Linked DNA regions of Homo sapiens: region 2 is linked to region 1. The links come from fine-mapping of genetic effects on gene expression. A gene starts in region 1. The other region holds a variant in brackets. All regions are shown on one strand. Distances are from middle to middle.

The links. PIP is the estimated chance that this variant, and not a neighbour inherited with it, causes the effect.
Region 2: its variant is fine-mapped to the expression of STX6 in whole blood (TOPMed, PIP above 0.99).

The regions. Positions count from the first base shown.
Region 1 is chr1:181,015,557-181,030,959 of GRCh38, forward strand. STX6 (syntaxin 6) reads right to left here and starts at 7,314. Exons shown (of 8, transcript NM_005819.6): 1 at 7,083-7,314. The coding sequence starts at 7,117. RefSeq lists an enhancer at 7,054-7,837 and silencers at 7,246-7,375, 7,496-7,595.
Region 2 is chr1:180,964,788-180,980,190 of GRCh38, forward strand. It overlaps STX6 (syntaxin 6), which reads right to left. Exons shown (of 8, transcript NM_005819.6): 8 at 7,938-11,859. The coding sequence ends at 11,783. It also overlaps the pseudogene MR1P1. Among named protein-coding and RNA genes, the nearest start is that of KIAA1614-AS1, 18 kb to the left of the region's middle. The variant A/G (reference allele first, on the strand shown) is at 6,045.

The sequences.
Region 1 (15,403 bases):
TTGGGGCTCAGACATATTGGCTGCTTGCCTCAAGTTCTTCCAACCCTGATTATAAGACACTTTCTATTACCAAGACTTATTTAATTGCATTTTTCCAAAACTTCCACACAAATCTTTTTTTTTTTTTTTGAGAGGGAGTTTTGCACTGTCACCAGGGCTGGAGTGCAGTGGCGTGATCTCAGCTCACTGCAAAAGAGGGTTCAAGCAATTCTCCTGCCTCAGCCTCCCAAGTAGCTGGGACTACAGGTGCCCACCACCACACCCAGCTAATTTTTTGTATCTTTGGTAGAGATGGGGTTTCACCATGTTGGCCAGGCTGGTCTCGAATTCCTGACCTCATGATTCGCCTGCCTTGGCCTCCCAAAGTGCTGGGATTACAGGCATGAGCCATCGCACCTGGCCCACAAATCTGTTTTCTTTGTAGAATCAGAAGATCTGGGTTTGAACCCTTAAAAGCTGACTATAAGCAAGTGAATAGTAACTGCTAGTTTAAAAACTGCCTCCTGATTTAGAATTTATGATAGAAATCAGATTAAATTTAAACTCCTCAGGCAGGTATTCAAACCCTCTCCCACTCCTCCTCCTAACCCAAACTGGCTGACTTTAGTATCAAGCATGGTTTCTCACTGAACAAATTCTGTTTCAGTTGGCAGGTCTTCTTCCCATCTTTATCTTTCTCATTCCTGGTTCTTGACTTCCACTCAGTTGTTTCCCCAGCCTAGAAGAGCCTTACACCTCAGCAGACACTTCCTTTAAGGCCCAGATTGACCAGCATTCCCAGCATGGGTCTTTCTTTTTTTTTCAATCTCCACAGCATCTCAACTCTACTGCAAAATCTTACACAATATATCTTTCACTTATCTGCATAGTGTTCTCCAAACTAAGGAGCTAAATAATATTAAACACTCAAATTTATAATAAAGGCTTGCAAATTTGTTCTTACAACGAAACACTGGATTCTGCTTTTTAGAAAGTATTAAATTTGATTTACATTCAATTTTACTAGGCCAAAATTAACAAACAAGGGTTATTTTTTTCACAGTGACTATACCAATACAGTTTTTCAACAGTGAATAGAATGCGTGATGCCCTCGAGGAGCTCATAATCTAGTGTTAATAAAGCTAGATATGCAGACAGAGAAGGTTAAAGAACACAACATAACATATACCATCTTACTCATCAGCTTACTTATGTCATTATTTCAACATCAATCCACAGCCAAAAACCTGGAAATAAAACTGTTATCATGCTGGGTGCGGTGGCTCATGCCTGTAATCCAAGCACTTTGGGAGGCCGAGGCGGGCAGATCACCTGAGGTCAGGAGTTCAAGACCAGCCTGGTAAACACAGTGAAACCCTGTCTCTACTAAAAATACAAAAACTATCCGGGCGTGATGGCGGGCTACTCGGGAGGCAGAGGCAGGGAGAAGTGCTTGAACCCGGGAGGCGGAGGTTGCAGTGAGCCAAGACGCGCCACTGCACTCCAGCCTGGGTGACAGAATGAGACTCTGTCTCAAAAACAAACAAACAAACAAAAAAACCATCCTCGGCTGGGCGCAGTGGCTCATGCCTGTAATCCCAGCACTTTGGGAGGCCGAGGTGGGAGGATCACGAGGTCAGGAGATCGAGACCATCCTGGCTAACACAGTGAAACCCCGTATCTACTGAAAATACAAAAAAAAAAAAATTAGCTGGGCGTGGTGGCGGGCACCTGTAGTCCCAGCTACTCAGGAGGCTGAGGCAGGAGAATGGCGTGAACCCGGGAGGCGGAGCTTGCAGTGAGCCGAGATCGCGCCACTGCACTCCAGCCTGGGCAACAGAGTGAGACTCCGTCTCAAAAAAACAAACAAACAAACAAACAAAAAACTATCCTCATCAGACACACAAAACCTCCACAGCAATAAAATAGCAAAGAGCCATGGTATTTGTACCTTTTATCCACAGGAGTGGCTCACTTATACTCTGTCTCCACATGCTCAGTTACATGGTTTTCTTCAGGGTTTGTCTGATTAGAAGGTGCAAATTCTAAAAGGAGGCTAATTCTAAAAACTTGCCAACAAGGGAGGAAAAAAACTACAGAACTAAACAATCAAAATGGGTTCACTCAACAAACACTGAGTACATCCTTACTGAATACAAAGATGAAGACTACAAGATTTAAATATGATATTTTCACCCGGAGATTAGTAAAGATTTTTTTAATGAAAATCCCAGTACTGGAATCAAGGGAATTGGGTCCCTCAAACACTTTGAGGGGCAAGGGGGAATATTCTGGAGGACAACGTGGTAGTATGCATCAAACGCTTTGCTGTGCCTGCCCTCTGAATTAGCAATTATGCTCCAGGAATACAGGCTATGAAAATCAGAAGCAGCAATACAGACCTATGACAAGTAGGCTTATCACCACATTAATTGTAGTGTGATCATAAATATAATGTATCTTCCAGGATGAACATTTATATGACAAAATACAATGCAGTCATTAAAAGCTGCCACCCAGAAGTCTGAAGGATATAAAGAAATACAGATGAAAACGTCATAAAACAGGCCAGGCGCGGTGGCTCATGCCTATAATCCCAACACTTTGGGAAGCCAAGGTGTGTGGATCACCTGAGGTCAAAGTTCAAGACCAGCCTGGCTAACAGGGTGAAATGCCATCTCTACTAAAAATACAAAATTAGCCAGGCATAGTGGCGCACATTGGTAGTCCCAGCTACTTGGGAGGGTGTGGCAGGAGAATCGCTTGAACCCAAGAGGTAGAGGTTGCAGTGAGCTGAGATCACGCCATCGCCATTGCACTCCAGCCTGGGCGACAGAGTAAGACTCTGTCCCAAAAAAAAAAAAAAAAAAAAAAAAAAGAAAAGAAAAAGTGATAAAACCATATATAACGTATAATCCCAATTTTTAAAATGACCATATTATATATATAATATATATTTGTAATAAATATATAAATCCTGGCCCTTCTACGTACAAGCTTATAAAGTTGAAGTTTTTTACTAAGTTTCATTTTCCTTTTTGTGAAATGATGACAATAATAATACCTACTTCATAAGGATAAAAGAGCAATCCCTGTTGTGGGATTCTGTTCCGAACAGGACATTGACAATGTCAAAACCTCCCAAAAGGAGCTTCAAACTTCCAAGCACTAACCACTGCATGTATAAGTTACAACAGCTTTCTAACTGGTCTCCTTTTTCATCTTTCCTCACACTGATGCATCCAACACTACCACCAAATCAATATTCCTAAAATCCTAATTTCATGTCATTTCCTTGCTTTAAAAATCTGTAATGGCCTCAAGATGAGATTCTCCTTAGGCCAACATAACTTGACCCTATTTTACCTGCACTGGGAAGTATTGACAGTAGTGTGAAATCAGGTTGTTCTAATTTGAAGCCTGAGTACACCACTTATTAGCTGTGTGACCCTAGGCAAGTAAGTTAACCCCTCTAACACTTCCTCAGCTTCTCATCTCTAAAATGTGGCTAGTATTCATCATATGGGTGTTTTTACAGAGTGAAAATTCATATAAAGTGCTTACTTAGCACTTTACATGTATGCCTGGCACTGGAGATGCATCCTTTAAATGTGAGCTGTTACTACTTCCCTAAACTGTCTACTCCACCTGGGCTGCTCTTCCAGATCATTTCTAACACACATTGCCCAACTTAGGCCTTTGGCTGGTGGTGTTCTCACCCATGAGGCACCATTCCATCACAATCACCACCATCAACAAAGAGTATGTGTTCAACATTTACACTATATATTCAAGGTGTAGGCTGGAAATACAGAGGAAAAAAAAAAAAAAAACAGTCCCAAACCTCAGAGCTCATAGTCTAATAATGAAAGAGAGACAGAGGAAGAGGTCCAATAATTAGGGGTGACAAAGGAAGCACTTCCTGGAGGCAAGGGAGATGCTTACACTGACTCCAGAAAGCTGCGTGGGTGAATCAGGCAGTGTGGGTGCATGTAGAGTAAGAGCATCCAGTACAGCAATCACAGTCACTGTATTGAGTCTGGCACTGCTGGAGTACTAAGGCTAAGGGAGAGCAGAGGCTAGATCAGTGAGGTCAGGAAGTGTTGGCACTTTATTCTGCAGGCCAGCAGCAGCCACTGAATAATATTAAGTAGGGTACACCTGTCTAGGACTCTAGAAAAGCTTACACTGTGCTGTCCAACACGGAAGCCACATACAACTACTGACTGGAAATGTGGCTAGTGTGACAGAAATTAAATTTTAATTAATGTAAACTTGGTAACTGATAGCAATTCAGTTATCAAAAACCTTTTATGTATGTTTGGAACAATTAAAGAGTATGTAGGCCGGGCGCGGTGGCTCACGCCTGTAATCACAGCACTTTGGGAGGCCGAGACAGGTGGATCACAAGGTCAGGAGATCGAGACCATCCTGGCTAACATGGTGAAACCCCGTCTCTACTAAAAAATACAAAAAATTAGCCGGGCGTGGTGGCGGGTGCCCTGCCCATAGTCCTAAAAATACAAAAATTAGCCAGGTGAGGTGGTACACACCTATAGTCCCAGCTACTCAGGAGGCTGAGGTGCAAGAATCGCTTGAACCTGGGAGGCAGAGGTTGCAGTGAGCCGTGATTGCACCACTGCACTCCAGTCTGGGCAACAGAACAAGACTCTGTCTCAAAAAAAAAAAATGTATTTAATGAACTTTAAATACAGATCAATTATTTCTGATGAAAATTTAATGTCCAAATTTAAATGTGCAGTAAGTGTAAAATATGTATCAGATTTAGAAGACTTAGTACAAAAGTAAAATATCTCATCAATAATCTTTAATCACATGTTGAATATTTTGAATGTATTAGAGATTACATTAGAATTAATTTCACCTGTTCCTTTATATTTTACTGCGGCTACTAGAAAATGTAAAATGACATACATGGCTGGCATTATACTTCTATTGGACAGCAATGATCCAATAGATCCCAGGACAGCTGAAAGAGGAAATGAGACCAGAAGCAGGAAGAACAATTAAAAAGACTCTGATAAGCATCCAGGTAAGAGAGACAGGCCTGATTATCTAAATTCTGCCCATCTTCAAAACCTAATTCAAGATACACTACTGCCTCCAAAAGCTCTCCTAATCCTAACAATTCCCAAGGAGTTACCTTTCTCTGAACTCCTGAGGCACTTATCTGTAGCATTCACTTCAACACTCATTCATTTGCCACCTGTCATTTCTATTTAATTTTGGGGTAATTTGTTTCTCAGATTAGACCAGAAGCTCCTAGGCTAAGGGCCATAATTTAGGCACCTTTAATTTTTGCATGCTGTGTAATGCATTTTTGATACTTTTAATAAACACAGGTACATGACTCCCCAAAAATCTGGATACACCTTCATGGGTGACTTTACCTTTCCACAGCAGAAGGAACTGAGAATCTCTTTTCCTTCAAGAACCTTAAAGATAGGAGCTAAAATGATGTAAAAATCAATCAAAACTCCCTCCAAGCCAATGTTCCGATAAAGTAGTGATATTTAATCAGTGAGCAAGCATTAGTAGACTGTATAGGATACCATCAAGAAAAAAAAATGCCAAGACAGAAGAATTTAGGCTTTTGACAAATTCCATAAAAAGTCAAACAAAAAATTTCTGATCATCTCTGATCTCTACCGCCAGAGATAACCTTTGCCAACCTAAGCATTAAGAACTTTCAATCAAGGAAAAAACATCTATTTTAAAAATTAACCCCTAAATCAATCCTTCTAATAAATATCACATTTTCTAGGTAGGGATACACATATTACCAGTAAATTTACAACTCAGCATTTTCCCATCTAAATTAGAGTAAGGTGAAGAAAAAAAACTTTCCAGGGAAATATTAAGAAGTAGTATAAATGTATTTTACTGCATAATCGATAAAGTATTTCACCTAAAATACCATTTAAATTTTCTACAACACTTGACTATACAACGGCCAGCTTGCACCACTACAGAAATAGGAAGCTAGCAGCAACTAGTAAAAAGCAAGGGACATTCTGTGGTGATCAGTACTGACCTGGGAACTTTGCAGTTTTCAGATTTTTCATGTTTGACATTTAAAACAGAAAACTGACAAGTTTCTAATAAGAAACTAAAAGTTACATCAGAATTGATCTTCTTGCATGTGTTTAATGGCTACGAAGTGGATATTACAAAGTGCAGTTGAAGACTCTATCTCCAAAGAAACAATCGAGCAATCAAAGATGAGCTAGGATAGCTTGTAAGGGAACAGAAGGCAGTCCTTTCTATTCTGAAAGGCAGAAGAAATAGGAGAAACCTGTCAAACAACCTGGATGAAATCAAGGAGTTAACAAGCAACACTCATTTCCTTTAGCACTGTGAGAAAATTCCGGTTGCTAATAGAAAGCTGAGGAAAGTTTGGTTTGGCTTGTTTCATTTTGTTTTCCTTCCAAATCATCACTGAGTATGAACGACTGCTTTCCTCTCCTCACATTACTCAGTAAAAACTCCCCCATTGAATTGTCTTCCGGTGCCCTGCTCCCCAGCCTCCCAGAACGGCCCCCGCCCCCGCCTCCCTCCCAGCAAACGTGCTCAGACGCCTCTGGGCTTGTTGTGGTCTCGCCAGTCTGCGGACAAGCGCTCCAAACTCAATGGACAATGGAGCTCACCCCCGTCAACGCGAACTACAAAGCTCAGGAGGGCCATTTCCCTTTTCCTGCCCAGATGCTGTTTTCGCTCCTTCGAAGCAAGATCCCATGCTCGACTAGACGGCCAGTGTGCGCCAGGACCCGCGTGTCTCCTTCCCCACCTGCAGAGCTGCTGAGCCCCTCGGCCCCCAAATAAATTGTACCGCAGCACACAGGCCAAAAAGGGCCCCCCACCACCAGGGGCTTGGCTGGGGACAGTGGCTTCACGGTCCAGGTAGGGATGGAGGGAACGTCTCTTGACGCTTGGTCATGGCCCTCAAGACTAAGCCGTCTCCACTGTTCCCCCTCCCCAGCTCCAACTTGCCTCCCCTCCCCCCACTGCGAGAAGACCTAGGAGGTGCGGGCAGGCAGCACCGCCACCTCTTCCTCCGGTGGAGCGCTCGGCCGACACTCACCCTTTCACCACAAAGAAGGGGTCCTCCATGGACATGGCGTCCCGGCCCCGGCCGCCTTCACCTCCTCCGCGCACAGGGCGCCCGTGCCTCCCGGTCTCCCTCCGCCCACCCCGCCTGTTCCCGCAGCTGCCCGCGCCTTAGTCTGGGTGAAGCCGAGCAGCGGGCACGCGCACAGGCCAGGTGCACAGGACGGCCGCTGGTCCAGCACTCGCTCAGCACCACTGGCCGAATCCCGGACTCGGGCGCCGGCCCCCTCGGCAGCCTCCAGTCCCGGCTCCTCCCGAAGCGTCGGAGGGCCTGACCCCACCCCCGGGACCCTCGGCCGCGGCCAATCACGAACGCCGCCTGAAACACGACTTCCGCACCCCGCTCACGTGACCAGGGCATATATCTCTCTCTCTCTCTCTCTCTCCTCTCTCTCCTCTCTCTCCTCTCTCTCCTCTCTCTCCTCTCTCTCCTCTCTCTCCTCTCTCTCTCTCTCTCTCTCTCTCTCTCTCTCTCTCTCTCCCCCCCCCCCCAGTGGGCGGGGCTTACGCCTGCGTCCCTCGGCCCTGGAGGCGGAGCCCTCGGGGCGGTGGAGGTGGGCGGGCTTCTACAGCCCTCTCCTCAAGCTTGAGGGTGAGGAGTGGCTTGTTCCCTCAGAACTAGGCAGTCGGCTTTTCAGGATAAGCTGTAGTTGTACCTGATTTGCAAAATCCTCTTACCTTTCCTCTACTTTTAATACTTAATTTTGACAGTATGTAATTTATAAATCTATCTGGTCCTCGACTTAAAATGAAGCATAGTATCTGATTATAATGTTACACAGATCCTTTAAGTAGGTCTTGCTTTGTGTTGGACAGTGTGCTAAAGGTTGTGTATGCATCATCTCAGTATCCTTTGGGGGAAAGTATTATTCCCCCCTCCCCCTTTTTGGGGGGCAGGGTCTCTCTCTGTCACCCTGGCTGGAGTGTAGTGGCACAATCACAGCTCACTGCACCCTTGACCTCCTGGGCTCAAGCGATCCTCCGGCCTCAGCCTCCCGAGTAGCTGGGACTACAGGTGAGCGCCACCACGCCCGGCTAATTTTTAAATTTTTTATAGAGATGGGGCTCTCAGTATATTTCCTAGGCTGGCCTTGAACACCTGAGCTCACATGATCCTCCTGCCTCTGCCTCCCAAAGTGGTGGGATTATGGGCGTGAGCCACCACACCATCCATTTTTCTCATTTTGTAGATAAGAAAATAAGTTCAGAGAGGCTTGAAGACTTCCTGTAGTCACACAGCCTGGACAGGGCAGAACTGCAGATTCTGTGCACTTTCCACCAGATGGGGTGTACTTTCTGTTGCTGTACATTCTGCAAATAACCATGTAAAGTAATTTTTCATACAGCATATGGTGCTTCCCAGGAGAGCACACCTTCGAGGAATAAAGAAGGGGCCAGGTATGACAACTTCCTCTCACTGTGGTTCAAGAGCTATTCGAGAAAACATTTTGCCCAGAACCATTAACCAACTCATATGCTAGATATGCTATGAAATTTGTGGATGGGGATTGTGGACTTTGATTGCTGAAAATCATTGAGCACTTACTGTGTGTGTGTGTCAGGCAGGATGTTAAGTGTTATCTCAGTTGCTCTTACAATGTGATAATTACTGCTATCATGCCCATTTTATAAATGAGAAATCTGAGACTCGGAGGTTAAGTGACTTGCCCAAGGTCACCAGTCTGGAGCTGGCACAGTCCTTGGAGCAACACAAACCCCGTTTAAACCTTGGCTCTATCATTCAGTTCCTCATCTATAAAACATAAATAATAATAGCTAGTTCATGGGTTGTTGTGATGGTTAAATAAAAATGTGTGTAAACCTCAAGATCCCAAAGGACTAAGTTACTGAAGTCAGGAAAACCAGTAAGGACGCTGCTAAAGTCATGTGGCCTGAAGGGATGAGGTCCAGACCAGGATGACAGCGATTGAGAACAGAGAAGGAGTGAATCTGACAGATGTTTCAAAAGGAAAACAAGACTAAACACCTAGACATGATGAGGGGCTGAATGGGTTTCAGGAGGGGAGAGAAGAGAGGGGTGAAAGCCAAAATCCCTGGAGGAGCGAATGATGGAAGGCAGATGTGGGGAAAGGAAGCAGTGTCCAATACTAGTGATTGCTAATGTTTATTGGGAGAGAACTGTTTAATTTACTTAGCTGGGGAGGTGAAAACGTGTCATCGTTCATTCATTCAACAAGCACATGTAAATTGAGGGGTAGGTGAGCATGGTGTTGAAGACCATCCTTGGAGTCTGATTGCTTGAGTTCTGCTGCTTCCTGACTGTTGCATCTCAGGCAAGCCGCTTCATCTCTCACTATCCTCAACTGTGAAATAGACACCGTAATAACAGCTTCCTTATAGAGTGTCATGAGGTGATGTGTGAAAAGTGCTTAAAACAGTGCCTGACACATGTTGTGCTCCTACTGTGTGCTAAGCACTGAGACACAGGCATGAACAAGGCTTGGTTCTTGCCTTCAAGGAACTGTCAGACTGGTGGGAGAGACAGACTGGTGGGAGAGACACACAGTGAGAGAAGGGCACAGGTTGCCATAGAAACACAGCGACAAGATACCAGTATATTTGTGTGTTTTCGGGGCTGGGGCAGGGGGTTCCTAAGCAGTGACTAGAAGCAGCCAGGAGAAGGGGGCCATGTTGCTGGAGTAGAAGGAAAAGGATGGGGGCAGCAGGAGCTAAGCCTGGAGGTGGACAGGGTCAGATTATCAGGGCCCTTGTTTGTAATGTTCAGAATAGTGGACGCTTCCTATGGACAGTTCCCCATGGGGACTGAGGGAATTGACAGGGTCAGATTGGCATTTGAGACAGATGCTTCAGTGGCTAGGAGGTTATGGTCCAGAGGAGGGATGAGGGTATCCTGAGCTGGGCTTGTGACAACTAAGGTGGAGAAGAGTGATGCATTTGAGACATACTTTAGAGGCAAAGTTAGTATACTTGGTGACTGATTGGTTCAGGGTATGGGGGAATTGATGAAAGAAGAGGGAGGAAGGCTTCTGGGGTTGTAAATGGGTAGTGTTGGTTCCAACCATCAAGAAAGAGAACACAAGAGGAGGATTTGATTTAGGGTGAATGTAAATTAGCTGTTAGCATGTCATTTATCCCCACCAAACAGTAAACTCCTGGAGGGACAGGATACTATGTTAATGTTATTATCACCTAAGTGCCTGACACGGCCTCTTATTATCTGTTCCATGAATTTCTTAATTGGACCACATATGACAGGCCAGAGTTTTATAAGTAGTAATAGAAGATAGAGGACAGAGGCTTGGGTTCCCATAATTAGGGGATTAGAAAAAGCACCAACAATGGAGATAGTGGAGTGTCAAGATATAAAATGTGTGTATGTGTGTGTGTGTGTGTAGGTGTTCCTTTCTTTAATGTGTCACCCTCCTTTACCCTCTCTCAAACTAGACCTTGGCCTCCACTGCCCACAAGGAAAGGGAAGCTATGGCTAAAATGCAAGGAGAAACAAAGGAGGTTCTTTCTTTCTTTCTTTTTTTTTTTTTTCATTTAATAGGACCCACGTCCTGGCATAAACAATAGGTTGGGAAGAATACTCAGCAAAAACCCATCTCTTCCCACACCCCCACCCCTACCCCACCCCCAACCCAAAAGAATAATTTAAATTTCTCAGGGAATAAAAAATCAAAACAGTGGTTGTCTTGGGGGACAGAGTTTGACTGGGAAGGGAAACTTTCTTGGGTACTAGAAATGCTCTGTATCTTGACGGAGTGTGTGTTACATGAGAGTATCATTTGTCAGAATTCCTCAAACCGAAACTCTTAATTGGACTTAACTTCTGTTCATTTTTCTGGGGGAGGTTGACATGCCAACTCTGAGCTTTCTGTAGAGTTCTGAGTGGGCAGCCAGGAGAACCTCTGGTTCCTGAGTGAGTCTCCAAAGTTAGGAGAGTGAATGAGGAAGGGAGCACACTGGGTCCTGCAATGCATCTTCTGCAGAAATAAGGAGATGGCAACACAGAGAATAAGGCACAGGCAGCCAAATGAGCTGAGGATCAGAAAGGAGCCAACCATATCACTGGGGATGCCAGGATAGACCTGAGAGGGATTGCAGTGGGTAGCCACCCCCTGCCCCTGGAAGCTGCGGGAATGCCATGACACCCCTACAAGGGGATCTCCCCTACTCTGAAATAATGACATTCAGCCTGCTCCTTCACTAGCCTGTTATAAGGAACAACTGGATCATATATGGGAATAATTTTTTATTTTTTAAATTTTTTATTTTTTAAATTTATGAGGCCGGACATGGTGGCTCACACCTGTAATCCCAGCACTTTGGGAGGCCAAGGCGGGCAGATCACAAGGTCAAGAGATCGAGACCATCCTGGCCAACATGGTGAAACCCCATCTCTACTAAAAATACAAAAATTAGCTGGGCTTGGTGGTGCGTGCCTGTAGTCCCAGCTACTTGGGAGGCCGAGGCAGGAGAATCACTTGAACCCAGGAGGCAGGGGTTGCAGTGAGCCAAGATCACGCCACTGCCCTCCAGCCTGGCGACAGAGCGAGACTCCATCTCAAAAAAAAAAAAAAATTTAATTGTGGTAAAATACACATAACATAAAATTTACCATCTTAACCATATTTAAGTGTACAATTCAGTAGTGTTAAATATATTTGCCTTGTTGTGCAACCAATGTCCAGAACTCTTTTCATCTTGCAGAACTGAAACTCTATACCCATTAAACAACTCCCCATTCTCCCCCAACAATCTCTGGCAACCACCATTCTACTGTGTGTCTCTATGAATTTTACTACTCTGGGTACCTCACATAAGTGGAATCATACAGGATCTGTCTTTTTATGATTTGCTTCTTTCAGTTAGCATGATATCTTCAAGGTTCATTCATTCATTCTACATATTGCAGAATTTCCTTCCTTTGTAAGCCTAATATTCCATTGTATATATACCACATTGTGCTTGTCCATTCATCCATCAGTGGACGACACTTGGCTTTCTTTCATCTTTTGGCTATAATGAATAATGCTGCTATGAACGCTGGTGTACAAATATCTCTTTGAGACCCTGCTTTCCATTATTTTGGATATATACCCAGAAGTGGAACTGCTGGATATGGTAATTCTATTTTAAATTTTTTTGAAGAACAGTCATATTGTTTTCCATTTTACATTCCTGCTAAAAGACACACGCATTCCAATTTCTTCATATCTTCATCAACACTTGTTATTTTCTGGGTTTTCTTTTCCCTTATAGCAGTTGTACTAATAGGTGTGAGGTGGTATCTCATTATGGTTTTGATTCACATTTCTTTAATAATTAGTGATGTTAAGCACCTATTCGTGTGCTTATTGGCCATTTGTATATCTTTTTTGGGGGGTGGGGAGAAATGTCTATTCAAGTCCTTTGCCCATTTTTGATTGAGTTGTTTTGTTTTTGTTGAGTTCACCCTAAATCCTTCTTGAAACAAGGTAAAGAAAGGGAGAAAAGTGTTAACATAGATATAGGATATCATACTCTTCATCATTATCCAACCTTTTAGAAACCCTGATATACATGTACATATTCCAGAACATTCCACTTATGTTAAGTTCCATTGATCTGGCTATGACTGTCTATGTTTCCTACCTCCAACCACAGAAAATATCCATACACATATCCAAAACACACTGGCCATGATTTATTTCCTCTTCCTGTTTGTTACCAACACCTCCACCACTGTCACCCTCTACACACTGATTTAAAATAAACAAGGAGGAATTCCAGTCAATTTACATATTCAGCACTAAGGAATGATGGAGAATTTGTGGAACATCCATTTGGTGGTCATTAGAAATGTTGTTTAAAAGTATGTAATGACATAGGAATGGCTTGAGTAAAAACAGCAAGACACAAAATTATACATATGATACAATTTCAGCTCTGTTCTTTCTTATACATTAAAATGTTTTGGTACATAGAAAATTTTTACACGTAGGAAAAAAGAAATCTATTTAAAGTTTGTCAACTACTACAGTGAAATATTTACTTGGATAGTCAGAAATCCAAAAAGTTTTTTAAAAAGAAGAGAAAAAGTAATAAAAGAGAAGTGAAAAGCCAAGTGACCACATACGAAAAAGTACATCAAAAGTTAGCAGTTTTCAGCCTGAGCAACATGGCAAAACCCCATCTCTACAAAAAAAAAATACAAAAATTAGCCAAGTGTAGTGGCTTATGCCTATGGTCCCAGCTACTCGTGAGGGTGAGGTGGGAGGATCACTTGAGCCAGGAGGCAGAAGTTGTAGTGAGCCATATTCACGCCACTGCACTCCAGCCTAGGCGACAGTGAGACCCTGTCTCAAAAAAATAAATAAATAAATAAATAAATAACAGTTTTAAATCCTGTTTAGAATAAGGCAAGTTAGGAGGGTCTGAATGAATGGAAATTGGTGAGTACTAAAAAGCTGAAATACGTTATTGGAATTCAGTGAATTTCTTGACAAGACGGTGGATTTGAACCACTATAGGAAGGGGAGGTATGTTCTTTACCATCCTTTATGAATGTGACTGTGTATAAGGAAAGAAAAATCAATCTGTGTTGGTAAACTGGCTCATTGCAATAATAGTACTAGTGATTGCTAATATTTACATACTATGTACCAGGCATTGTGCTAAGTGACCGATGTGGTTGGGCTGTGTACCCAACCAAATCTCATCTTGAATTCTCATGTGTTGTGGTGGGAGGGACCTGGTGGGAGGTAATTGAATAATGGAGGTAGGTCTTTCCCGTGCTGTTCTCATGATAGCGAATAAGTCTCATGAAATCTGGCAGTATTATAAGGTGGAGTTTCCCTACACAAGCTCCTGTCTGCCTGCTGCCATCCACATAAGATGTGGCTTACTCTTCCTTGCCTTCAGCCATGATTGTGAGGCCTCCCCAGCTATGTGGAACTGTAAGTCCAATAAACCTCTTTCTTTTGTAAATTGCCCAGTCTTGGGTATGTATTTGTCAGCAGTGTGAAAACAAATACAGTGACACACATGCATTATCTTCAGAAGCTCCAGAATCCCCATATGGGGCAGGTTTTAGAATGTAATTTGGTTGGACAGCAGGGCTAGGGGACTTGATGTGGCATGGGAGACCCCTGTCTTTTCTTTTTTTTTTTTTGAGATGGAGTCTCACTCTGTCGCCCATGCTAGAGTGCAGTGGTGCGATCTCTGCTCACTGCAAGCTCTGCCTCCCAGGTTCACACCATTCTCCTGCCTCAGCCTCCCGAGTAGCTGGGACTACAGGCGACCACCACCACGCCCGGCTAATTTTTTGTATTTTTAGTAGAGACGGGGTTTCACCATGTTATCCAGGCTGGTCTCGATCTCCTGACCTCATGATCTGCCCACCTTGGCCTCCCAAAGTGCTGGGATTACAGGCGTGAGCCACTGCGCCTGGCCTCTTTTCTTAAATTATAGGTTTATTTGGGATTACTTAAGACAGCTGATGGCCATTATGCGTGTGTAGTAAAAGTACTCTAATGCCCCAACAAGTGACAAGTCACTTCTTGGTTCCACCACTGCTGATTTCATTGAATCCTCACAATAATCCTGTAAGGCAGAATTGGTTATTACCTCCATTTTCTATGAGAAATCCCAGACTTAGAGAAGTTAATAATTTGGTCAAAGGTCACATAGGTAGGAAATGTCAGAGCCTCATTTGAAAATAAGTTTGACTCCTGAACCCATGTTCTTTGCTACAGTATTCTACTCCCATTTGTACAAGGACTAGCCTTGGCCAAAAATTGGCAAATGGATTTTACCTACCCACAGAAAAGGGCTCAAATCAAACTCGACACAGACACAGACACAGACACACACACACACACACACACACACACACACACTTCTACTGAATTAAAAAAGAAATAGCCAAGGGGAAACTACTGATTAAATATAATAAAATATATTATGTTGAAAACAACATTATTTAACAAACAAGACCCTTTTGCTAACTTGATAATTCATCATTTGGTTTTTAAGGATGAATTGCACTAACTGCAAATGAGTCAGATTCCTCAGAGGGGCCTTAAAATACATATAATAAATCAGGTATTAAAAAGCCAAACACATAAAGGGATTTATAATGAACAGGATAAGCACAACCCACTCTGAAAAGTGCGGCCTGAGATTTAAGTTTAGACTATTGCTCAGAGGTGAGGCTTGTTTTTCCACAAAGAGAATGCGAGGGATTCTCCCTACCTCAGTGCCTCCCAGCTTAGTGGGGCAGTCTTACCTGTCCTTGAAGATCTTGGCATAATTGAATCTATTAAAAAT
Region 2 (15,403 bases), 51 kb before region 1:
GCAGAGACAGACGCTTCCCTCACCCCACAGAGGCCCCTGGGCTGACCTCCAATGAGCAATGCTGACTTGCACCTGCTGTGGCTTTTGGCAAAACCTGGGAAATCTGGTTGGTGTAGTTCAGAGTGTCCCATCTGCCTGTGCATCTTCTGGACTGTCCCTCTCTCCCCCAGGAGCCCTTTATCCTCTGCCGCATCCCCCTTCCCCATATCCCCATCTCCTTTCCCATTCTAAATTTGCCCATTCTGTGTCTCACTTCTTGGTAGCCAGGCCTAGTGACCTGCTTGCTTATGCATAATGACATTAACTTTCCCAGGGATATTTCTAGCTCCTGCATCTCTCTCCCTCCTCCACTGCACTCAAATAGCCACAGTTTATCAATCAATCATTCCCATTACAGGATAACTCCCCAAGAAGGGAATTATCACACTCCTTTGGCATGCAGTAGGTACTTCACAAATACCTGTTGTCAGAGTGGTATAATGGACACTGGCGACTCAGGAAGGGGAAAGGTGGAAGGTGGGTGAGGTGAAAAAAACCACCTACTGAGTACAACATACACGATTTGGGTGACAGATACACCAAAAGCCCAGAGTTCACCACTACACGATTCATCCATGCAATCAAAAACTACTTGTATCCCTAAAGCTATATGAACCAAAAAAAATTTAAAAAACAACCCTGCTGTCAGGTGGGCTTCCAAAGAGGGACCTCCTGGGGACTTAGCGATGCCACAGCAGGCCTGTGGGGTGACGTAGACCAAAGGATGCTTCCAGCCATGCCCCTGCTCCCAGCACTTGAGAGCCCACCTCTGTCTCTGTGTGGACCCCTCTGGGCTTGCGTGTGTGTTCCAGGGTCTCACACTTACCAGAGAATGATTGGCTGTGAGCTGCTGGAGGATGGAAGCACTACAGGATTTCTGCAGTATGCATATGATGGGCAGAATTTCCTGATCTTCAATAAAGACACCCTCTCCTGACTGGCTGTAGATAATGTGGCTCACACCATCAAGAGGGCACGGGAGGCCAATCAGCATGAGTTGCAATATCAAAAGAACTGGCTGGAAGAAGAATGTATTGCCTAGCTAAAGAGATTCCTGGAATATGGGAAAGACACCCAACAAAGAACAGGTAAAGAGAGGAGGCCTTGTTCCTGCATTGCCTGAACAATTGTTTCATAAATCCTCTAATCTAGGTTACATTCACCCTATCCTGAAGCCATCTCTTTAGTTGGCCTGTAGTGATCTCATGGCTAGAGCCCCCTGCGAACTTTTGAGCCCTCTGGTTACTTCTGAGCGGCATCTTGACAAGATTTGGCGGTTCCCCTTGTCTTGACAGAGTGGAGTACCTCCAAGGGCACCTTGTTTTTGGGGATCCATTGAGGCAAATTCTTCCATTCCATCAATAAGCTGGGAAATTCTTTGGGAGGTGGAGCAATTCTTACAAATTGTTTAGTTAACAAAGGGCTCACACACCACCAGTAGGAGTGAAAATCTGGATTTAACAGGACAAACAGAGGGTCTCTGCTTTACTAAAGGACTAATGACAAGATTCCTTCCAGCAAAGAGCTCTTCTTATACCTTAAAGATATGATTCAATTGGTCAACTTTCAGTTAATACAGAACTTTTCATGTATGATCTTATTATTCAAAATGAATTACCCCTGTATCATGCTACGGGAAATACCCAGACACACGTGCCTTTCCTCACAGGAGTAGGAGGGATTTTCTCAGCTGTGGCCAACAGCAGGGGAGGTGTCTGGCCACAGTTATGAATATGGAGCATCTGCTAAAAGTACAGGCTTTGGAGGCAGATGCCTGGAGTCTGAGCTTCGACTCTCCTGTTCACTAGCTGAAAAACTATCTCTTAATGGTTGCAGGTAACAGAAACCTATGTAAACCGGCTCAAGCACAAAGTGGGATGCTATTTTAAAGGTGGGAATCAGGGCAGTGTGGGGACCCGAGAGATCAAAACCAAGATGTGAATGATTTTATCCAAGAGGTAGGGATGTGGCTGCCAGCACAAAGCTCATATCCTCCATCGCTTCACCACTCCGTAAGAATGGGTGTCTCTCTCCCAGCTCTGGTTACTAAAAGGAAAAGGAAGTCACGGGAGGACTCTGACGTGCGTTGGATCATGTGGTACCTCTGGGCCTAATCACCGTGACCATCAGGATAAGCCTCTAAGACAAGCCATAGCTAACAGTCCTGGCAAGAACTAAATGGTACAACTCAATATGGTTTAAATGAATTCAACAGACAGCATCTGTAAGGGAATAATCAGAACTGAGGAAACCAGTACGGGATGGTGAAGTGTCCAGAGACGTGTGACAGAGGGAAGCTATTACCTCCACCAGAGCTGAAGGGTAAAAGAGAATATTGTTATCATAGTCCGGCAAGAGCTGCTACCCTGGCAGAGGATGCTCCTTGTGAGAGCTGTGACCGTGGCCCCTGGCGGGACTGCAGTGAGGTGGGTTGGGGAATGAAGCCCCAGCCTCTCTCTCCTCCAGCTCTCTGGTCTTTTTTGAGGATGCTCATCGCAGTGGCCAAGCCCAACCAGAGGCCGGGGGCTCTGGAAGTGCAATCTGATGCGTATAGCCTCCTGGGGCATGGAAGGGCAGAGAAGAGATTAGCTGGGGGCTGATGGGGAGAGCCTAACCAGCACACACACTTTTTTAGGCTAGGGCTGGGCAGGAGGATTAAGACTGGTACCTCTCAACACAAGCACATGTTGGAATGGGGTAGGGTAACTTTCCAAAATATGTTGTGTGTTTGGCAGAAGGGGTTCCTGTTGTTAGAAAAAGTGAGGCTAACAGATGGTAGGCCAAAAAAGCAATAAACTAGAGTAAAATCAACAGGTATGATAATGCCTACCCCACAGAAATGGATAGGAAAAACGTGCATAAAAGCACTGTGTAAACTGTAGGGCTCTGTTCCCTTTTCATGAGGCCATCAGTCATACTGGATTAGGGGCCCACCTTACTACTGCAGGATGACCTCACCTTCCCAAATTAAATCAACAACCCTATTTCCAAAGAATGCCACATTCTGAGGTACTGGGGGTTACAACTTCAACATGAATTTTTTGGGGGAAACAATTCAACTCCTAACACACCCCTACCCAACCTCTGTAGGTTCCCTCAATCCACCAAAACTCCTTTGGCTCCAGTGGATTATCTAGCAGTTAGGAAACCAAGATCATTAAACAAATTCACTGCAACCACAGCGAGACTGACTACCTTAGCTTACCTCTGTGAGAGGAGTTAAGCCAAATGAATCTGTAGAATTTTGGCGGGTTTGGGGGTATTTGGGGGCAGGGGACAGATGTTCTTCCTTGAAATCACAATACTTAGTTCTCTTCCATTTATAAGACTCACCCCTCCATCCCAACCCCTGCACCACAGGACAAGGAAGTGTTCTTGGCCTTCAACTTTCATCCATGATGGTGAAAGCACTTGCTCCTGATCTATTTGCCCACCAGCTTCTCCTCTGTAGCCTGAGGCTTCTGATGCCTGCCTGGCTGGTTCTCAGTAAGAAGGTCAAGTTCAACCAGAGAGGAGATGCTGATGCCTTTCAGTAGTTAAATATGAATTCAGACCCTGGGGCCTGGACATAAGATTTGGGGTCCCATCAGCTGGGCACGGTGGCTCACACCCATAATCCTAGCACTTTGGGAGGCTGAGGTGGGTGGATCACTTGAGGTCAGGAGTTTGAGAACAGCCTGGCCAACATGGTAAAACCTCGTCTCTACTAAAAATACAAAAATTAGCCGGGCTTGGTGGCATGCACCTGTAGTCCCAGCTACTAGGGAGAAGGCTGAAGCACAAGTATCACTTGAGCCCGGGAGGCAGAGGTTGCAGTGAGCCGAGATCGCACCATTGCACTCCAGCCTGGGCGACAGAGTGAGACTCAACCTCAAAAACAAAAAAACAAACAAAAAAAAATTGGGGGTCCCTTGGACCTAAGATTTCTGAAAACACTCAGACTATGGGGACCCCTGCTGAAGGAGAAGCCCCCAACTGTGGCTTCAGGGGAATGCACCAAGGCTCTCACTGAGGCCGCCTTCTCCAACAAGCTCCCCTCCTGCTTCCCCATGGCTGGCATGGCTGAGGAAAAAGGACACTGAGCACAGCCTGTGCATGAGCGGCTTGCCATGCCGCAGGATAAAACCCATAATGCCACTCAGCGTGCCTTGGTTGTAAATCTAGTTTGATTACAACACTAATCTCTGGCCATTTGTTCTGTTTCTGATTTGTGAACCAACCGAAGACATGAGCAGGGCCTCAGCTAACCCACAAATAGCACATGTGTGCAAACTGGAAAAATGAACCCTTCTTCTGGGAGGACGCCAGCCCAGGCCAGGTCACCCGGCTTGGCCAGCAGAACACAGAGTGGATTTTGGTCCCGTTTGTTCCCCAGTGGGGTATCTATCCTTGTGCAGGGCACAAGCTTACATGGTGGCTCTGGTCATTTCATTAGAAAATAGACAGAAATGGGCTGCACACCAGAATGAATGATTTGGAAGGGAGGGGTGATGGTATAAAAGAATAGGCCAATTCATTCAAAATGGTAGAAGCAGAATGCCAAATTCCATCCACTCTTACCAATGCCCTGAGCTGGGAAGCACAGGAAGCTGCTGCTTTTCCTCTCCCCTTTTTCCCCACTCCGTGTTGGCTGCACCAGCAGAGGCTTCTGTATTTGCCCTGGGCGGGAGTTGGGTATGAAGGTCTGGGCCAGAAGGTTCTGAGTTGCTGCGCTGCTGGGTGGCAGCTGGAAGGCCAGGCTGGCTGAAGCCCTGGCGAGGTGACACTGGGTCTGAGGCAGGTGCAGTGGCAGCAGCCAGACCTCTGAGGACACAAATGGGCTAGAGAGTGGGAAGAATGGAGTGGGGGTAAGGGGGGACAGCCTATGAGAGGAGGCTGCGGGATGAAGTGGGAAGCCACAAAAAATGGAAAAGGAAGTGAAACCAAGGGAGAAATAAGAGTGCCACCCCCGAGGCCGTCCTGGCCTTTCTTCCTTTCTGAGGCATCAGCGCAGATTCTAAGGTTACCTGAACTGACTGAGAGCTCTATTGTTTTCTGAGCAACACGACAGTGGTATAGAGAATTCCTGGAACACACTGGGAAGACACACGCTCTACAAGGTGACAATTCTGGGGAAATCTGAAGGGCTGGAATAATAAAAAGTCAAACATTTGGCATCCCATCAGCTGCTGAAACAACCCTCTCACGTACTTTAAAATACCCAAGACACACACTCTGCATATTACTCACGAAACAGCTACGAATGCACAGTCTGTGCATTACCAGTTCATGTCACACTGTGCCTCAGGAAGCCGCTGAGTGGCCTGGTCATGCATCTTATCAATCTTCTGGGAGAGGTTCTGCCTGACTGAATTGGCTTCCATAGTATTTGCACTTCACAGCTGAAATCCTTAAGAAAGGAGGTCAGCTTCTGGCTCCGTAACAAGTTGTTCTTGGCCACCCAACGGTTGCCCTTCCTAACTGGAGCCATGGTGCTTGGGTGGAGACAACAGGTGTAAAATGGGTCAAGTGAAACTGTGCTTGCTGCTCCGGCTGACAGCGAGCAGCTCTATGGCTACCCTAACATGCGACGGCCACCACCAAATTCAAACTCAGCTGCCACAGGCTGCCAAATGAGAAGTCGCCATCTTAGTCCCTCAGTGTCCAATACAAGGACGCTCCACAGTCAGGCAGCCAGTCCACAGGTAGGACTACAGTGCCCAGAAGTCATGGCGATTTTGTTTTCAGATTGACAGATAACACTATGTTTTCATCGTGCACGTTTTGAAGTATACAGAAGTGCCCCCTGCCCCACCGCCTTTTTGCAGGGATACATTCCAAGACCCACAGTGGATGCTTGAAACCACAGATTGTACTGACTAGATAAACTGTTTCTTCCCTTATATACATAGGAACTCCCTTGCTGAAATCTTTGTATAGGCACAGTGCTTTCCAGTGCAACCCATTTCTGAAACCTCAGAAAGTGAAACCGCAGATAAGGTGGGACTCCTGTGCAAGTGGGTGAC[A/G]TGACAGTGGACGAAGAAAATAAACATAAAAGTTGTCCTTTATCTAAGAAGGGAACGCAGTTCAGACAAGGAAGAGGAAGAGCAAAAGGTCAAGACACAATAACAGTTACCCAAGCTGTAGGGCAACAAGGGTTATCTACGGTGAAACCAACTGCAAGCCTGACACTCAAGTTTGACACGAGGATCTTCAAGACCCCCTTGGCCTGTGCACTCCAGCAGCCAGGGAGCAGATTTATGGTGTTAGTGAAGGACAGCCCTCTCTGACAGCAAAAAGATCTTCCTCACTTCCAGTGGGTGGTGGAACGAGCATACTACCAAGGGCCAGTGATTTGTGGAGGATTGATTTTGCACAACTGCATCTAGAGGCCTTGGGAAACCTCCAGCCCTCTAGCCATCTTGCCCAAAATGTGCGGACCCACAAACGAGAAGCAGCCAGACTTTTCTGATGGGCCTCCAATGGGCACTTCTGGGGTCCTGAAAAGACTTCTTCCCATCAGGTGTATTGTTTCTTTGATGTGAAGTTCCAGAGCAGGGAGTAGTGTTCCTCTGGGGAATTTGGAAAAAGGGAGACACACTGTTCTCACATCAGTTTTAAAGCTTTGCTGTTCACGCCTCATAACTGAGGTGACCCCAGAAATTGCTTGCTGAGTCCATGCAATGGAAACTTCTCATCATTTTCCCAGCTGTATTCTCCTCCCTGCTCTTTGACCGACTGCTCTCTGCCTCCAGTAACTCAGCATCCTCTTTGGCCTGCCCCACCTACAACTGTTGTGGCATGGAAGGACCCCAGGTTCTCAGAAAAACTGCCACCTCACCCTCCTCAGAGAACCCTTAGGATCTGGCATTTCCACTCTGTGTACGCTGGAGGCCGGGAGGCTCAGGCTCAGAAAGGTGAGAGCTCTGGGCCATGAGAGTGCACATCTAGGAAGCGGGGGTAACTGTACGAATTAAGGCCGGATGGCAGAGCAGGACAGGTCACAGGGGTGCCCACAGCAGCAGAACAGGCCATCTCACCACCCACACCCATCCCCCTCCTTCGGTGGGGGTTACTAAATGGGGCTTTGGGATCTCTCACCTTCTTTGCACACTAGTTCTTTTGAAGCTGGCCTGTGGAATGGTGTTTTATGTTTATCCTTGTTTACTGTAGACCAAAAATTGGTTTGGAGGCAGCTTCCAAGTCTTGTCCCTCTCTCTCACTGGTTAGTGGGAATTTGGATAAGGGAACTGTAGGGCTTAGGTCAGTCTAGGGTCTTTTTTTTTTTTTGAGACGGAGTCTGGCTCTGTCGCCCAGGCTGGAGTGCAGTGGCGCGATCTTGGCTCACTGCAAGCTCTGCCTCCCAGGTTCACGCCATTCTCCTGCCTCAGCCTCCCGAGTAGCTGGGACTACAGGCACCCGCCACCACGCCCAGCTAATTTTTTGTATTTTTAGTAGAGATGGGGTTCACCGTGTTAGCCAGGATGGTCTCGATCTCCTGACCTCGTGATCTGCCCGCCTCGGCCTCCCAAAGTGCTGGGATTACAGGTGTGAGACACCGCGCCTGGCCAGTCTAGGGTCTTATGTGACCAGCTGCAGAGTAAGTACCTCTAAGCTATCCATGGTCCCTGCCAGGTCTATAGACTCTACAGAGAGCACCGCTCTCATGGGTTCATGTGTACCTGTCTGGTGGCCTTGTTCCGTGTGTTTAGCCTCTGCCCAAGGCATGGATGAGTTACATGCAGTTAGTGGTGAGATCCTCATGCTGAAGCCAGCCTCTGTGCCCCAAGAAGTCATGGGCTATGATCCAAGAATCTGGGAAGTAGAGGTCTTACCCTCAGGCTTGGGTGGCTCTTTGTTGCATTTTGTGTTATTCTGCTATATGATCATTCTAGTAATTCAGTCCTTTTCAAGTTGAATTCTTTTCAGGTTGTTTTATTTTCCTTTTCCGGAGACTTTTGTACATACTGTTGTCCTGAGTAACAGTATCTCTAAGCTGAGTTACTCTGATCGGAGCTACTGAAAGGTACCTGCTTTCAGCAAATTCTGGTTTGGTTTTATTTTTTAATCAAAAAAAAAAAAAGGAGAGAAAGAAAAGAAAGACCACCCCCTATTAGAAGCAAAGGCCCTGGGAGGAGTAAGGCCTGTCACTGGGGCAGGGGCACTGTCCTCAGGGGCGGACTTTGCTCAGGGATGGCGCACAGTGACTGCGGGGGCTTAAGTCCGGTAACCCTTTGGTTTTATTTCTTTTTATTCTTGATGGGCAAAAAGCCTCCTTTAAAAAACATTATTCTTAAGAAACCTGGGAGAGAAAAAAATGCCAGTGAGAGGAAGACAAAGAAAAATTAGAGGCAGTACATTCCATATTTCAGAACTTTAGCTTTCCAGACAGTCCAATTTTGTTTTGTTTACAAATTCATCTTGCAGTACAAGGTGAAGCCAAATGGTACAAAGTCCACAGAATTGAAAAGCCATTCATATTTATCATTCAATTTTTTGATCTTCAAATGTTATGAATTCTCCAAAAAGGTAACAGGGAACAGATATCCCTTTGGTCTCACTTTATAGACAGGGAAATTACCAAAAGAAAAATCTTGGCTCTACCATCTCTACTTACAGAAGGTAAAACACTTAACAGAGACAGATTTCTGTTGGAGTTAGACTAGATTTCTTTTCACAGCCCTTAATCTCACGAGGTGAGAAGGAGTGGAAGTTGCCAAGTTGTTGGCTACCAGACCCATCAGTCTGTTTAACTCTGGCTAAAAGCAGAGAATAATGGGCAAGTTACCAAGTTTCCCCCTTCAGCTCTGGCGTGCATTCTGAAATTGTGGAAGATCCTCATGTAACACACACGCTGCAACCTGCATTTGCCACACAGTCCAGGGCATATAGAGCATTGTGATTCTTCACAGTCCGCAGAGACAAGACCAAAAATGAGGACTAAAAACTAAAGGTAGCTGAGTTTTTCAGATGGATTTTCACTCTGGCAAACTCAGTAGTTCACTCCCTCCCACCCCTCAAATCATTTAAGTAAAATGTTCTTCCAATAAACATAAATTGAGCTCTTCCTCTGTTATCCATCACATTCTGCCAGTTCTTTAAAACTGGAATATGGTACTAGGTACAGAAGGCTAAAGGGGTAGGAAAGCCCCAAATACTATAAAGATGCACTTATAAGCAGTGTGGGGTTATCACCACTGTCTACTTACTCTCCCATTCTAGGACACAGGGTGAAGAGACCACCTGGGTTCCCTCTAAAGCCCTGAACATTAGGACCACTGAGGAGGAAATATTTGTCCTTAAAAATAAATGTAGGTTCCCTGGATTGTTCTCTTTGGCTGCCACATTTGGAGCCTGAGTGGAGGCCCTTCAAATTAACACTGGTTCTGTAGGGACTGCCCAGTCAGGGTGCAATGGGATCAGACACAGGATCAAATCAGCCAGGGGCAGAAGGGCATGGTGGCCCTACGGGTAGAATGCACTGTATTGTTAGTTAACTTTCTAAATTGTTCTCTATTTAGCTTCAGCCTGAGTCAGGTCTACAATGGCCACTATTTAGAAAATAATTTAAATCAGTGAGGTAAGCACGCCGATTTGAAATATATCCAAACATCATTAAGCCTCTGGGTCATAAAACTTGGTCCCTGAACTAACAGGAGTATCTTACTCATTAATGACTAGGTTTGTTCCAAACGGCCCCTGCTGACACACATGATCCTTTTGTGTGGCACAATAAATCTGGTAATAGCAGAACAATAGCATGGCTTTTAAATAGGGTAATTTTATAATTCCTTAAGATGCTGGTTTGCTTCTTATAATGTGTTGTGTGGATTACAGTACTTAGACAAGGTTCACATTTACTTTAAAAGACTTCTATATTTTAATGCAAATCTAAGGATCATCCCCTTTCTTAGTTTATAGAAGATTCAAACTTTGTAAAACATAAATAACCTAGTACTCTAAACATCTGAAGCCCTTTGTAATACTCACTGTTTTTTCCTAATTTGAAAATAACTTATTTATATATCAAACATTAGAGCGGAGTGTAAACATGGATGTCAATCACCCTTTTAGTTTCATAAATTTGCTTTTAGCTTTCATCAACAGGCATATTTTCTTAACCTACCATGATCTCAAATGAGATAAAATATCCTTCTTCAAAAATTGTTAAGAATATTTATTAAAAAGTGCAATTCAAAAGTTAGCTGGGCAAGCACATCATTGCAAATCACAAAAAAGGGTGAAAAAACCAAAACCCCCAAATAAAACCACATGAAATACAAACAAAACAAAACAAAAAGGTTTAAAAAAAAAGTGTGCTGAGGAATGCACCCAAAAAGACAAGGAAATGAGAAGTCAAAGCTAGAACTCTATCCAGATGTTGCTGTTCTTTCCAAGTGCAAAAGAAGGTGGTGAGGAGAGACCAGCAGCCTCCACCACCGAGTTCTGGCTCTGGGTCCAAATACTACTTTAATATCAGATTATTCATCAGGGAAGTTATAAAAATATCCTATATACATGTGCACATTTGAGGCATTTTAAAAAGTCATCAGAAGGTTAAAGTTTAGTGTCTCAGCAGTTTCAGCTACTTAAACTCAATTAAAGCATCTATCATTTAAATTTGGATTGGCTCAGTTATTTGACTGCAGATGATAAAATCAAGCTGTCATCTTAGGGAAAAAAAAGAACCAAGTTTACCTACACATCCTTGCCATTACCCACAGAGTAAGAGAAGTCTGGCCCAGAGCTAACCTTTTATGTCATTACGTTTCTTAATAAATGTAATAAATGTACTAACCACTCCCAACCCCAACCCCCAGTGTAGAGTGCCCTAAGAGTAAAAGAACTGTAATGAGGACAATCTGGTATCCAAATTCATTCAAGTGTGTTACTGAGCTGTTTAGCAACAACATATGTAGCAATCACCCTCAAAACGCAAGCTGCACCTCTGGGGAGGAAGCCCTGGTACAGCAACATCAAGTCGGCAAGGATCAGGAGCTGACCTGTGGCGACATCATTAACCCTTCCCTAAGCTATGCCAATGCAGAACCCTCTTGCTCTTTTTAATTGCTCCTGTCAGTTAAAGCCACAAGTTGTTAGCACCCCCAAACCCCAGGGTGTTTCATTATTTTCCATTAGTTATTCTTACCACAAAAAAAAATGACCTGGAAAAGCAATTTTATCTTAGCATTTATCCCTGAAAAATGAAACACTGCATTTTCTGTCACAAACTGTTTCTGAGCCTTCTGTCCTCAATAATCATCAGCTCTCAGGGGATAAGAAATGCTACAGCAATGGGAAACGAAACATACCCAGAAGCTCGTATTCCTGACAGGTTTCTTTAGATGGGACAGCGGTGCACTGTCTGAGCACGGGGAAGGGTCTGAGCAGAAGAAAAGAGCTGCCAAAGATGCATGGAATGAGCAACAGCAAAACACCAGTGGAGTCTGTAAGTCCCTCCTCAGCAAACGAGGTCCCGGAAGGCAAGGCAGCAGCTAGTTCTCCTCCGAACTGGACAGGCGGCATGGGGCTTCTGTTGTCCAGCTGCAGCCAGGAGTGCAGACATCTATTTCCTCTTCCCACTGGCCCTTCCAGCGCTGGGATGGAGGAGCCATGTCAATTGTGGGGTCACACGGAGAAAAGTCAGTGCAGCAGTATGTTTCCAGGATAGGAATGTGAGTAGACGGCAATGTCACACGTGCTCAGCTTCTCCTCCTCCCCTCGGTTCATATGCAGGAGGAACTCGCACCCAGAGGCCCCGCCGTCACAGCACTAAGAAGAGGATGAGCACAACCAACAGGACTGCAAAGAGGATGGCTATGGCACACCATTGGCGCCGATCTGGAAGGCAGGACATGGGGATTAGCTCTCACAGGGACTCCACATTCCCCAAGATACAGTTATATGGAATTTATGGCACCCTTTGAAGCAGAAAAGGGGCAGAACGTGCAAATGACGGGGCCATGATCTTACACCTGCCTAGGTGCCTGATGCTCTAATGCTGCTCTGTTCTTGGCCTGCACTTCGCATGCAGTCACAACTTTGCCAGTCCCCTGAAAATGTCTCGTAATAATTACATGCTTTGTGTCTCAAGTCTTTAATTAAAATCTGCGGATCTTAGCTTTCTGCTGGTAGTTAGCATATCCTCAAAAAAGGTGTTGGCAATGGTGTTACAGATCAAAGCCTGCCTGCTTTAATCTCCCATAAAAGTCAAGTCATTTAATTAAACAATAATCACATTCTTTTCTCAATGAGCACAACGGGAGGAGGGAAAGGAGATGAAAGCTACTGCTGGTCACTTCAGGAAATATACAGCTGAAAAAGCAAGCTCCAGTGAGACAGCATGATTAATTTCACACCACACCTAGTCAAGTAAGATTACTTAACTAGTAACTGTGTTAAAGTACCTTGTACAGCTCCTCTGTAAATGAAAGTGGAATTTTTTTTCTGAAACTTTCTGCCCTACCAACAATTTGGAACAGCAGGCACAGGAAACAACTTGACTAGAGTCCATCCAAATGGCTGAGAGCAGGGAGGCCCTGTGAGACAGAAGGGCCCAGACAGGCCCTGGGGGAGCCCTGCTGCAGCTCACAATCCTGTGGTCCCAACTCTACAACAGCTGCCCCGCAGGGCTGTTGTGAGAATTAAACAACACAACCCTGTCATACACACACTGTGCAATACCCAAACCTAGGGCACAGAGGATGCTGTCAACATCAGGATGCTTCCTTAATTTGGAGACATGTAGAAAAAATGAGCAGTCCTTCCACTGATGAGTTTTGGCATCTTCCACAAAGGGCCCGACTGATAACAGAATTCACTAGCGTATGAAAATGCAGTACAACCACTAGGAATAAGAGTTCCATTTAAATAGAAATATAAAGACATATTGATTCACTAAAGTTTCTTTGAAAGCCCACTGATTTTAGCACACTATAGTTATTGAGAATCACGTTGCAAAAAGATCTCAATCTATGAAAATAAACTGCTAAACTCTCCACAAGGCAAAACATGTACTTAAAATTATTTTAAATATTATGGATATCAAAGTCTTAGAACTGGACAAGAGAACTGCCACCAAATTATAAGTAAAGCAAGTACCTTCTAAGTGGTGATCACCTTGGTCTACCTCAGACATACTAGAAACTCATTTAGTTAACTCTGAGCAGGACAAAGACCCCAGGTCCATCACTCGTTGTTCTCAGGTAGGACTGTTCCAAAGGTCTAGGGAAGGCAGAGATGGCCTACTGCAGGTCACACTTTGACCTGTTTAACTATTACTTCAATGGTCAAGAAAACTTTTATAACTGGCATTCTCTCATCTGATTAAAAATGTTAAATTTTTAATTTCCAGCCAAGTATGTAAGAAGCTTAGAAGTCATCACTCTGTCGTAACAAGTAAAAAGCTGAACAAACTGAAAAAGCAAAACTCTTCTTAGATCCATCAGAGAAGTGAGGTCACATGGTAAACTGCTGCCCCTAAAACTGCAGAAACCTACAGATGCATACAGAGAATCACAGCTTATCAGAGCAGAAACCCACGAAGCAACAAACTCCATAGGAACCAGTGTTCTGGTAGGAAAACCTTAGCTTTAATTGATGAGTCGCTGAAGGCTCAGTGTGGACAAGTCTGAGATGAAAAACAAACAAACAAAAACACTCCAGGTGGACCCAGGCGAAGGGGACCCCCACACTTCTGTGGGTTTTACCTCCAGGAGCTTGACCAGGTTCTCAGCGAATATTGGGAAAAATCCCCTCATGCTTCCAGCAGGCGGAGGGGAAAAAGAATCACTACGAAATACTCCAGAGCACTCTGTTCTAAACAAAGTCTGCCCTCAAAAGAAACTAACCAGAGTCTGACTAACCTGGGGGAAGGAAAATACCCAACTCCAGTCTTCTCTAGCCATCCAGTTCCACCTAACAGTAGAAAAACTGGGAAGCACTAGTGAAGTTCACGGGCCAGGGGCACAGGCTCACCAGAGGCTAAGACCTAATCACAGGACTAGAAAATGCCACCCCCCGGCCTCACCACCCCATCTATGGTAAAGGTCTATTTACCACAGTTCCTTTTACCCAGTATATCATGTCCACTTTTCAACAAAAAGGTAAAAGGCACACTAAAGGAAAAAGCAACAGTAGGAAGAAACTGCATATGCATCAGAACCAGAGTCAGATACAGCAGGAATGTTGGAATTATCAGAAGAGGAATTTTTAAAACTATGATTAATATGCTACAGGCTTTAATGGAAAAAGTAAACAACATGCAAGAACACATGGATAATGTAGGCAGAGACATGGAAATTCTAGAATGAAAAAAATAGAGATCAAAAAGACTACACAAATGAAGAATGCCCCTAATGGGCTCATTAGTAGGCTAAACACAGCTAAGGAAAGGATCTCTGAGCTTCACAATTTGTCAACAGAAACCTGAAAAAAGAAAAAAAGACTGAAAAAAAACCTGGCACAGAATATTCCAGAAATGTGGAACAACTATAAGACTTACCATAACATCAATCAAGATAATGTAGTATTAGGAAAATAGACAAGCAGATCAATGGAACAGACAGTCCAGAAATAGGCTGACATAAATACAGTCAACTGATCTTTCACAAAGGAGCAAGTGCAATACAACAGAGCAAAGAGAGTCTTTTCAACAAATGGTGCTGAAACAACTGGACATCCATGCCAAAAAAATGAAGTTGGAGGCAGACTTTACACCTTAACAAAAATTAACTCAAAATGTATCCACAGACCTAAATGTAAAATGCAAAATTATCAAACTCCTGGAAGAAAACACAGGAGAAAACCTAGATGACCTTGGGTATGGCAATGACTTTTTAGATGCAACACCAAAGACACTATATATCCATGAAATAAATAATTGAAATTGGGATGTCATTAAAATTAAAAACTTATGCTCTGTGAAGTCACTGTCAAAAGAATGAGAAGACAAGCCACAGATTGGGGTAGAATATTTGCAAAAGATTCATCTGATAAAGGACTGTTGTCCAGAATGTATTATACAAAGAATTTTTAAAACTCACCAGTATGAAAACTAACAGCTTGATTTTAAAAATGGGCAAAAGACCTGAACAGACACCTCATCAAAAAAGAGATGGGGCTGGGCAAGGTGGCTCACACCTGTAATCTCAGCACTTTGAGAAGCCATGGCAGGCAGATCACTTGAGGTTAGGAGTTCAAGACCAGCCTGGCCAACATGGTGAAACCCTGTCTCTACTAAAAATACAAAAATTAGCTGGGCGTGGTGGCGCAGGCCTGTAATCCCAGCTACTTGAAAGGCTGAAGCACAAGAACCACTTGAGCCTGGAAGGCAAAAGTTGCAGTGAGCTGAGATCGCACCTCTGCACTCTAGCATAGGTGACAG